2 separate regions of the Homo sapiens genome follow, and region 1 is linked to region 2. Evidence: fine-mapped expression QTL. A gene starts in region 2. The other region holds a variant in brackets. All regions are shown on one strand. Distances are between the middles of the regions.

Region 1 (5,372 bases), 71 kb after region 2:
CCCCAAGACACACCCTGAGTTTGGACTCTGCTCTCTCCTTAAACTCTCCAATATTAGCAGATATGCAAGAACTCAGGAAGACAACTGTTGATAAAGTATCAGCTAGTATCCAAAAAGATCTAAGGCCCATATGTATCTGAACATAATCACATCCCTCATCTCACCCTGCAATAGAAGGAGTGCTCCTTTACCATGCACTCACCTGAGGATGTGCAGTCTGTATTCCTCTTTAAGTGCTGGGCCATGTTTACACTGTATATGTGCACTCCCCCTTCCAAACCTGGTATAGAGTGTCTGGATGCTCTCCCCTTCCTTACTTCAAACCTCAGCTTGGATATCACTTCTTCTGGGAAGGCTTCTTTGACCATGCTAAGATGGGGCGGGGGTCAGGGCTGCCACATTGCACAGCTGCAGGGGACATCATTCAGCAAAGTCTCAGGATACAAAATCAATGTGCAAAAGTCATAAGCATTCTTATACACCAATAACAGACAAACAGAGAGCCAAATCATGAGTGAACTCCCATTCACAATTGCTTCAAAGAGAATAAAATACCTAAGAATCCAACTTATAAGGGATATGAAGGACCTCTTCAAGGAGAACTACAAACCACTGCTCAGCGAAATAAAAAAGGACACAAACAAATGGAAGAACATTCCATGGAAGGGCATTGTGTTTCAAGTGAATCCTGACCCCTCTGGTGTTAGGCCATGGAGCAGCCCTCTCACAGTGCTACCTCTGCCTTGGTAGCACTCTGGGTTTACCTCTTCCAGGGACTTCACTGCTGGATTGTAATTGCCTGTTTCCTTGTCTACCTCTCTCAAGGGCAGGGACTATATCATAGAACACTGAAGTTTACGCAGATGGTGTGCTCAGTAAAAGCTACTAAAGGATTGAAAGTGTTGTTGAGTTGGGTGGCCCTGGGTCCAGCATTTCCTGAGGGGTGGCCCCGATCAGCCGGTTGCTGTGGTCTTGTTTTGGAAGAGGGCGCTACTAAACCCATATAGAGGGCTTCCTATTTCTTGTTGCTTATGAATATCACCTACTGCCTGGCCCCGGGGCCTTGTGTACTTTCTCAGAGAATGGGACCACGTTGGGAGCTAGAATGGGAGAAAGAGGGGCTGAATAAATCCAGGCATCCCAGCCCTCTTACAACCCCTTCTCTTTAATGAGAGAGACTTGTAAGTCCTAAGTCCAATTTTTAGTGACAGACGATTCTCTAATCAAGAAGGTCTGACTTAATATTTATTTATTTAATGAGCATATAAATATATACGGAAGTATCAAAAAATCATTGAAATCAAAAAAGTTGGTTCTGCTTTGTGGAAAACAAATCCTTCTGCTGTAGTATATTTTTCCATTAAAAAAAAAAGTTGATTTTCAGAGTCCTGCCAACAACATTCTAAATGTAAGTGCTAGATTTGCAAATAGGCTTATATTCATATTTAGAGAATATGCATATTCAGAGACTTATTATTCAGGAAATATTTGGTTATCTTCAGACTAAGTAAAACTTATGGCTAAAAATAAGAGGGGTAACATATAAATAGTGGGGAAAGTTAGGGAGCATGAACAGCAGCCATGGCAAGAATAGAATTGAGAGGAAGAGGTACAGAGAACTGCGTGTTATTTTTCTGTTTTGGTTTTTGTCTTCACCACTACCTAAAATTCCATTCCATTCCATTCTATTCAATGTAACAAACATTAGCTGGGTGCCTGGCACGCAGAAGATCTGAAAATGCAATTTTTGCCCCCATGTTCTTAGAGCTGGATGGGCAAGATACAATGGAATAAGGTTGCCTCTCTGACATCCTCTCCTCCACCATGATGTAGCCACTCTGTAGTTATGGGGTTGGACTTCAGTTCCATGGGTAGCACTGACTGGTGTAAACCTGTCAAGGTAGCCCTACTCCCTGCCAGCAATTGGTTCAGATACCCAGGCTCAAGCCTGGCATGGCACTCCTTAGGCAACAGTGGCTGGTTCAGGAATGGTGTGTGACTCTGTTTAGGCCAAGGAGATAAAAGGGAGTTTTCTGAGGATTCCAGAGAAAGTTTCCTGGCTACAAAAATAGAGAATAGACAGTAGAGTATTCTTCTTATAGTCCCTTTTGGGCAGGGATAGGAGGCCCTGAACCATTGCATCCTCTTGCTGTTTGTCTCAGGATAAACATCGTAAACACAAATCAGTAGAGTCAATAAAATCACAGAGAAATAGA[T/C]CAAGAACTCTGATCCAACTTTGCTTGAACCTGCACTACTCCTTAACTCTTAGTTCCATGAGTCAGTAGATCTTTTTTCTCGTTAAGGCGGTTTGAATTGGCTTTTCTCATTCTAACTGATGCAAGTGATAAGCGCACTGGTACCTGCAATGCTTGTCAGGAGATGGATGACACATAATAGAAAGATTACCCAGGAAAACAAAGCAAGGTCTAGCGGGGATGAGATCCCGTACCTAGGAGTAATAGAATGCAAATAATAAAAATATTGTTATTTGAAAGTTAAACTGGGCCCACAAATATGAATTAATATCTAACAAAACAAATAGCAAACATTAAATAAGAGAAACCTAAGTTGGAAATGAATCATAGAATTTGAGAGTTAGACAAGATCTCAAAGCTTAGATAGGAAAACCCCTAGATTTCCTGTACAGAAATAGGTTCTGAGAGGTTAAGTAACTTGTTGAAAATCACACAGCTAAGTCAAGCGAGGCTGAGGACCCGGCTTTCTTGAATTCCAAATGGGGTTCTTTCTGCTGCATTACATAGTTTCCTCTCTGAAGATATAAAATGAAATAGGAAAATGGTATTTCTAAATGTCAGCATAGGAAGAAGAGTGAGGAAAATACTGCATTTTTATTTAACGGGGATTTGGGAGGCTCATAATAGAAATTTTGGATGTTTTGTTTTTAAATAAGACTGTGGCCTTTACTAAAAGGTTGAGCATATGCTACAGCATGGAACCACCTGGGGTAGCACTGTTGCTAAGCGCCCCACCAAAAGCAAGGCAGGGCTGGTTCAACCCATGCTCACCCCAAACTTGTGACCTGACTCCAGCTGTTCATTAGCTGGCTGTTGCTAAATTTAGACTCTGTACATTCTTTACAAGATCAAAAGTCAATCCATAAGGAGTCAGACCAATAGCGTATTCCACCTGCTGTCCACCCCAACACTGGCACTGTTTTTCTCACTTTCTTCTTCTACGTATTAAGTGAGGTAGGAAATTCCAACTGAACCACAGTGCTAAAACAGCAGTAAAACAGATCTCCAAGAACTGGATTCTGTCTCAGGTGTTCTATTTTAATTGCTCTAAGATCTTTAAACACATTGTTTTATCTCTGAGCCTCCATTTCCTTGTGTATTAAATAACAAATGCCCTGCCTCCCTTCAGGGTTGCTGTGAAGATCAAAAGAACTAATGATTGTGAAAGCAGTAGGCGAATTCTACAGCCCTGTGATCTAACTTCAGGCCCCTCAGTTTAAAGACAAGGGAGCCCCAAGCTACTGACGAGTTTCCTTAGGCCGCCCAGTCTCCTAGTGACAGGTAGAACTACCCCTTCCTAAGAATGAAGTGACAACCTCCAGGACAGAGATTCATAATTACATTCAAAACAGCCACAAGATTTGCTAGATCTATTCAATAGCTGCCTTACGAAGCTATATGTGAATGTGGGACTCTATTCCCTCTTTTTTAGTGATGCTCCAGATGTAATAAAACATTATACACAATGTCAAGAGAGATTGCTGCGAACAATCTAGCCCAATGATGTCCATTTCAAAAACAGTTTCCAGTGCTATTTTGCTTTCTGGCTAGTGAAAAAAGAATTCTCAAAGAACAAAAGGGAATTTTAACAAAGGAAATGGAATTATTCCTTGTGAACATGCATTCATATTACAGCCATTCAATAAATTGTCCTGTTCTTTAGAGCTTTTATAAATTCTCTTTTACCCTGAATTTGAGAGCCCTGCAACTTGAATACTTGAGGGATTGATTCACACTTACAGTCTCCAGGGTTAACAGTTTAAACAAGTGACACCTCTGCTTCACTAAAAAGGACTCTGAGATCTCACGGTCTATCATATTAGCATTCTTTCTACACTTTATGTATTTGTCTGTTTGTGGCTTTCCATAGAGGGAATTGAAGCAGCTTATACAAATATAGGCTCTGCTTAAGAATAAAATAAACTGAAATGAGTTTGAGGAAAGAAAAAAAATATGGCTAAGAAAATATAGGCTGGGTACAGTGGATCACGCCTGTAATCCCAGCTATTTGGGAGGCTGAAGCGGGAGAATTACTTGAGGCCAGGAGTTTGAGACCAGCCTGGACAACATAGTGAGACCTTGTCTCTAGAACAAACAAAAAATTAAAATTAGCTGGGCAGGGTAGCGTGTGCATGTAGTCCCAGCTACTCAAGAGACTGAAATGGGAGGATGGCTTGAGCCCACGAGGCCACGGCTGCAGTGAGCTATAGTCACCCACTGCACTGCAGCCTGGGAGACAGAGTGAGACCCTGTCTCAAAAAATAAGTAAAAAAGAAAATATGATGGTTTGCTAGATAGATATATGTATATGCATATTTGAATATGTGTGTGTGTGTGTGTATACATATACATACATACCCAATAGCCCAATTCACTTGCAAGCAGTAGAGGATTAAAAAAGACTAAGCCTCCTCACAGCCAGTGCAAAGACAAGTCATTGCTACCTGGTGATTGGCGTTTGGCTTATAGTCAGCAGCCTACGCTGGGCTAGAGAGAAGGGGTGGAAAGCAAGCTTGGCTTATAGCCAGTGCTGTGTATGCAGCCATATAGTGAATGCCTTCATTTGCACCCTGAACTCTGAATAGTCACTTTTAAAACATCCATCTGTCATCCATCTAGTGAGGTCAGGAGAGTGGCTGCTTAACTTCTGGGGTGAGTAATTCATCTACAGATTCACCTACCCCAAGCAAAGTGGGTAATATTTAAATTCAAAGCCTGCATTTGTTCTACAGAAACCACTTGCAGAGTCCGCTGCCTTGGTAATGTATTGCCCTAGGCAACTGCTTGTTCTGACTCTGTTCTTTTCCCAGCTGGAGTCATTGTTTGGACTTATTTGTATGAGTTAATGCTTCTTGGGTACCCAGAAACCTATTCCCAGAGCTCACTCATTAGTCAAGTTGGTTTTTTTCACTAATCAATTATGTTCTCTTTAAACTAGCTAATCTGAAGTAAAGCAAGTTAACTAATTTGGAGAAGGGTGTTTAAATCATTGTAATATAATGTTTTCATGAAAAGTGCTTCTGTGAATGAGAGTCAGGTTGTGTATGTGGATGATCCAAGAGGTCCTGGAATTTGAAGACTGGGTCCTTAGCTTGTGTTCCCACCTAGACATTTTCT
Region 2 (5,372 bases):
GAACATTCTGATGTATTTATAAACCTAAGAGTCAATGCATACAACATTGCACCGTGGCAAAATGGGCAGAGGCTGGATAGTTATAAAATGAGGAAAAGAATGAAGAAACAACAATCACCTAAAGTAAACTTATTTTCAATGATTTGTAAAAGTTGCAGTCATGCTGTGACCTTTAATTAGGCTATTTCTATGTCTTCTCCACATATTCTATCCATGATCCTCAAGACATTAGGTATGACCATCTTCCTATTTTGAATGAGGAAACAGGCAGAAGCACTAGCTGGGTTTTTGCAATTTTCATCATACGAGCCTTCGAGAGGAAGGCAGACAAGCATGAAATGAGGGAGTGGGTAGAATAATTCTCCCCAGTCTGTACAGTATTATTTGGAAGAAGTGAGACTAGAAGGTTAGAAGGTTGACTCCGATTATCTGGAAGTCAGTAGAAACGAATGATGAAACTTCAGTGGTTTCGCTAGATTGTGCAATTCACCAAGATACCTAGTGGCTATTCAGGGAACCACATGAAATGCAGGAAAAACTCCTGCTGTATCCTGCCAGGATCACACCACACACCAAGTGACAAGGAAGCAAAGAAACAGGAAAACGCTGGGGCATACCCATGATTTCTTCTCCAATGAAAGAGGGCTAAGAAGACCAACTGTAAAACACCCACAATGCAAATTATAGGTGCCTTGGCATTTTAAAAGGGAGTAGGGAAATCTCCCAGAACCCAGAGACTCTCAAGCTAAAATGCCACAGGAATATCTTATCATTTCACTAATACGTATTCATGCCAGGTGGCACAATGCATTTCAAATGAAAAGTCTGACCTTTTAGGAAAGATAAAACTGCATCTCCCCCAATGAACGTGCATAAGCAATTTGTTGCAGTAATGTTTATTACATCAGATGTTGAGCCCACGGGCTCTCTATTTGCACTCAAACTCTTAAAGAGAGCATAGCCAGAATCAGCACTCACCAGCTTGTAAACCACTCTGCAGGGCAATGATTTTCTGCTGCTGCTGATCAATTAGGTTTGTTAGTGCTTTCACATGCTTCAAGGTAAGTTCAAGAACCACTGCTTTTTCCAAGTGACCCAAAGTCTGGAAGGAAAAGAGCCTTAGTCAGCGGTGAGGTCAGAGAAGTCCCACCTTTGGGACATTTATTAGCAATGAGAAATGAGAAAAGAAAAAAAAAAGTGGAATAGTGTTTCCTGGTTGGCTGTTTTAAGTCTGTAGGTCATGCTTTTAAAAAGATAGACAGATACACTCATATATGTGTGTGTGTGTGTGTGTGTGTGTGTGTGTGTATATATATATAATATATATATATAATTAAATAATTTAAAAAAACGGGTGCCACCTGTCTTTGGAGGCATTTTGGAAGCTGCAACTACCTCAGGAAAATCCTTTGACAGATAAATTTCTCCAGCAGCCTCTGCCGACCTTAACTCAGGGGAATCCAGAGATAACATTTTCCTGCAGTGGTGTCAACTCAGAGAGGGACCTCTATTACGTCTGGCAGCCAAGAGGCTTTCCCTACTTCTTTCCTTACACCCTTTCAGAACTTCCAGCTCATCCAGGCTTTTTTGTTCCTCCCGAAATACTATTTTTTTTTTTTCCATTTCCCCAACCAAAGGCTGCGAAGTAGCCGAGGGCTACTGTCAAGAAAGGACAGGCCGTAAAAATCACACACCAAAGCAAGTCCCCTTATTTGACAACAACAACAAAAAAGGTGGGGGGAGTGGTAGAGGGGAAGGGGTAAATAAAATGTGTGTGTTTCTTGGCGTGTTCCTTTAAGTGAGAAAAACTAGGGAATCCTGAAAATCACCAGAAGTTAAACTCCTGAAAAGGAAGGCCAGTTGGTGTTGGAGCCAACTTGGAGAGGTCCAAGTGGTTCTCGCCTCATTTGCATGAGTCAGCCAGAAAACGCCAGGACTGTGGAGGAGGACCCCACCGCAGAGCCACCCGCCAGCTCTGATCCGCCAGTCTGGTCTGCAGTTCCCCGCGGAACCTGCAGGCGGCGAGTGACCCGCCCGCCCTCTGGGCAAAGGACTGGGTTGGAAAGGGGCCAGCTTCTCACTTACTGTAAGTTTGAGATGTTCGGGTAGGAGATCCTTCAGCTGGGCGATGCACTCGTTAATCCGGTCACGTCTCTTTTTCTCGATGAGCCGGTGCGGCAATTTGTAGGTCTCCTGCAAGACGCACGGGGAGGCGGTGGGCGCTTGGGGAAGGAGATGAGAAGCCTATCCTCCCAGCCCCGCAGCAACAGTCCGGCAGAGGAGCAGAGTAGCAGAGTAGCACCCAGAACCATCGTCTGCCCTTTCTTTTCCAAGTCACTCAGAAGAGGCACCGAGCCCACACCCTGCATCCCCTCGCCAACCTCAAAGCGAGAAAACTTTTCTTGGAAACTCAGCGCGCGCGAGGGGCTGAGCGCAGGGTCCCTAGGGGTGCACTTGCTTACCTTGCTGTCCTCGCTCCGCTTTATTCCCCGTCTTGACTTGTACACTTGGTACATGTGGGCAGGGTACATCCTGCAGGAAGAGAGACCAGGAAGGGTCGTGACTGCTTGCGCACGGCTGCAGGCGTTCTGCCGGGCAAGAACCTCCCGGTGCGCCCGGAGCTGCTCCAAGTTGAGAGTGGCGCATAACATGGGGCTGCAGTTGAGGCTTGAAGGGCCAAGGAGTGCCAACTTACCCTGGTAGGTCTCCGTGCTCCAGTCCCGGTGCTTTGGGCAGGCAGGCGGGGGGTGGTTGCGCGCTGGGGATCCGCTCCATGGCGCGGCGAGCCGGGGCCACTGCGCGCTCCTGTCTGCACTAGCGGAGCGTCTGGATGAGGACTGCCCTGGAGAGGGCTTCGGGGGTCTCTCCGCAGATGTTCCTCTGAGTCTGAGCTCTTTGAAATCCCCTGGGCTGCTGGAATCTTCGGCTTTGAGATGCAGCTTCAGTTGGGGGCGTGCATGGCCCGGTGTCCCCGCGGCCTCTGGCTCCGACTCAGCGCACAGACTGGCGGTGTGTGCTCCCTGCGCGGTCTGTCTGCGCCGTGCGAGCCAAGTGAATGAGAAGTGGGGCGGGCGGGGAGGCGGGAGGGAGCGGGTGAGGGGGGGGCGGTTAGGGCGGAGTGGGGGGGTGGGGGGGCAAGCCGAGGAGTAATGGAGAGGCTGCGGGCTGGGTTAAATGGGAGCGAGTGGGTGGGTTGGAGCTACGTGTTCTACCCTGTGACTCCAGGCACGTCTGGCCACTGCCGGGGAGGGAAGGAGCGACCTGCCCGCCCTCCCCCGGCTTCATCACATGAGTCTCACGTGTTGGACAACGCTCCGGCGGCTGCTAGGGAGCCCCCACCCCCAGCCCCGGCCCCCAGGTGTCTGCGGCTGCGGCCGCCTTTCCCCGAAGAGGGGGTGGCAGCACGACCTGGGTCCTGCCCAGTTGGGTGGGGGGCGCGGAAGCTGGAAGGGACGGGGGTGCTGGGGGAGGGGGAGAAGTTGGTAACGTGGGCGAACCTGCCCCAGGGAAATGAAGTAAGTTCCCGTCTCCTGGGAGGGAACGGGGGAGGACGGATCCGCCCGCGTCTGACTCAAGCCGGGAGAGGAATATCCCCTTGCTAGCTCCAGCCCAGCCCTCTTCCTCCTCCCCCGCCCGGCCCGCTTGGAGGAACCGGCGCGCTGCGGAGGGAGTCGCCCGGCCCCCCAGCCTTCCCCAGAGGCTGGGGTTTCTTTCCGTCCTGGCTTCCCTGCCCCCACTGCTCACCCTCGCGTCCAGGAATTGCCCGCCTTGGGGAGGGACCGAGGGGCGGGGCGGATGTCACCCCATGGGAAGCGGGCCGACGGCCAAGCGCAGGGGCAGCTGAGGCTGCCGCCGAGCACGCCGCGCGCACCTGACCGTGGAGGGTGTGAGCCGAGGGCCCCTCGCTCCCAGGAGCTCCGCTCCTGGGCACAACCTGCGGGCGGGCGGGCACCCGGTTGCGCAGCCCCCTGGGTGCCCCAGTGTCACCCCCTTCCTCCCGGCCAGTCAAGCGCAGAAAGATACCGGGCGCTGTGCCCGGCGCTCCCTCCCTCCTCTGCCCCCTCCGGAGCAGAGGCGCCCCGGTCGCCTCCCCTCCGGCTGCAGCGTTACACAACCGCGGCGGCGGCGCCTGCCCTGCAGCAGCGCAGGGCGTGACGCTTCACGTGGCCGGGCTCAGGTCGTAGCACCGCGGACCGCGAGCCTCTCTGCGTTGACCCAGGGACTGAGACCCCGGGGACGTGGCGTGCCAGCCCGGATCGGCCCTCTCCCTGCCTGTTGGGAAGTTCGGCGGCGCTGTTCGCGGTCTGCACCCAGGGCAGGAGGGATGAGAGAGACAAGAAAAAAAAACCGCCTGTTACAGGGAAATCTTAGCAATCATGCGGTCGACACGTATTTCTTGAGCCCCCTGCTCTGCACTAGGCGCTGCACTAGTTGATGAATCCGACACGGATCCTGCCCTTGAACTTGCAGAACCTCTAGGAAGAGGTTAAATTGAGCAATAAAGGAAAGGCAGCCCTGGGAAAATTGTATCGAGGCCACTGGCTGACAGAGGGGAAAAACAATGAGAACTTGTGTTGCTTTGTGTTTTGTTTTTAATTTCATTGTAACCGAGATGCCTAGGTAGAGAAGCGGGGGAGAAGCTAACCCAAAGCCCCAAGCCCGGGGCGGAAGGACCTCCTCCAGCGGCCCCAGATCTCTGCAATCTCACTTAGGCTGCCGGAGGGCCCCACCCACCTCCCCCGGAAAGGTCCGGGCTCTGTGACCTTCTCACTCAGCCGGGAGCAGGGAAAACAGCTGAAACTCCAATCCCGCGGTGTGAGCAGCGCTGATACAGTCAGAGGAGGGAGCCAGTGGAAACTCATGACTAAAATAAGGCCTGGCTGGGGATTTCACTGACCTCTGCGCTCCCCTGCCCTGCAAGTTCGGGGAGTTGAGAGATGACTGTAAGCCCTTCCCACTGCGCTTCGGGTCAGTCACCCCACTGCTGAGTGACCTGGCTGTGGGAAGGATTGAAAAAAAAATGGGGTCACTGCCGAGACTGGGCGAAGAGTAGTAGCCTCGGGTGCAGTTAGGGGATCAGTCTTAACTGGCAGTGCCCTTGACGACCTAGAGAACTGGCATTCACAAGTTGACCAAACTGGCAGTGTATTTCCTTCAGGTCGCCTTGGAGAGCTCCCGCTTCCTGTTTATATTTCACAAGCGTCAAACTCTTTAGCAAGTGTGAGAAATGCCTCCTTTTCTAACTGCTAACTGGCATGACCTCACTTCGGGGCTCAGAGATCCCTCCCTGCCAGAATGTACTTTTGCTGGCCAAAGGCGGGGACCGGGGTCCGCCCTGGAAACGCGCTTTCAATCTTGGGCGACCTGCTTCA

What was found. PIP is the estimated chance that this variant, and not a neighbour inherited with it, causes the effect.
Region 1: its variant is the best candidate, but not a certain one, in a credible set for the expression of BHLHE40 in whole blood (TOPMed, PIP 0.60).

The regions. Positions count from the first base shown.
Region 1 is chr3:4,905,911-4,911,282 of GRCh38, reverse strand. All of the region lies in intron 1 of BHLHE40-AS1 (BHLHE40 antisense RNA 1), which reads left to right. Among named protein-coding and RNA genes, the nearest start is that of BHLHE40, 71 kb to the left of the region's middle. RefSeq lists enhancers at 4,649-4,788, 4,426-5,131. The variant T/C (reference allele first, on the strand shown) is at 2,217.
Region 2 is chr3:4,977,122-4,982,493 of GRCh38, reverse strand. It overlaps BHLHE40 (basic helix-loop-helix family member e40), which reads right to left and starts at 3,057. Exons shown (of 5, transcript NM_003670.3): 1 at 2,696-3,057; 2 at 2,463-2,532; 3 at 2,086-2,193; 4 at 979-1,102. The coding sequence starts at 2,775. BHLHE40-AS1 (BHLHE40 antisense RNA 1) reads left to right here and starts at 2,533. Exons shown (of 3, transcript NR_125916.1): 1 at 2,533-2,699. RefSeq lists enhancers at 2,074-2,668, 2,776-2,925, 4,226-4,345, 4,476-4,525, 4,646-4,835 and silencers at 3,076-3,135, 3,346-4,115.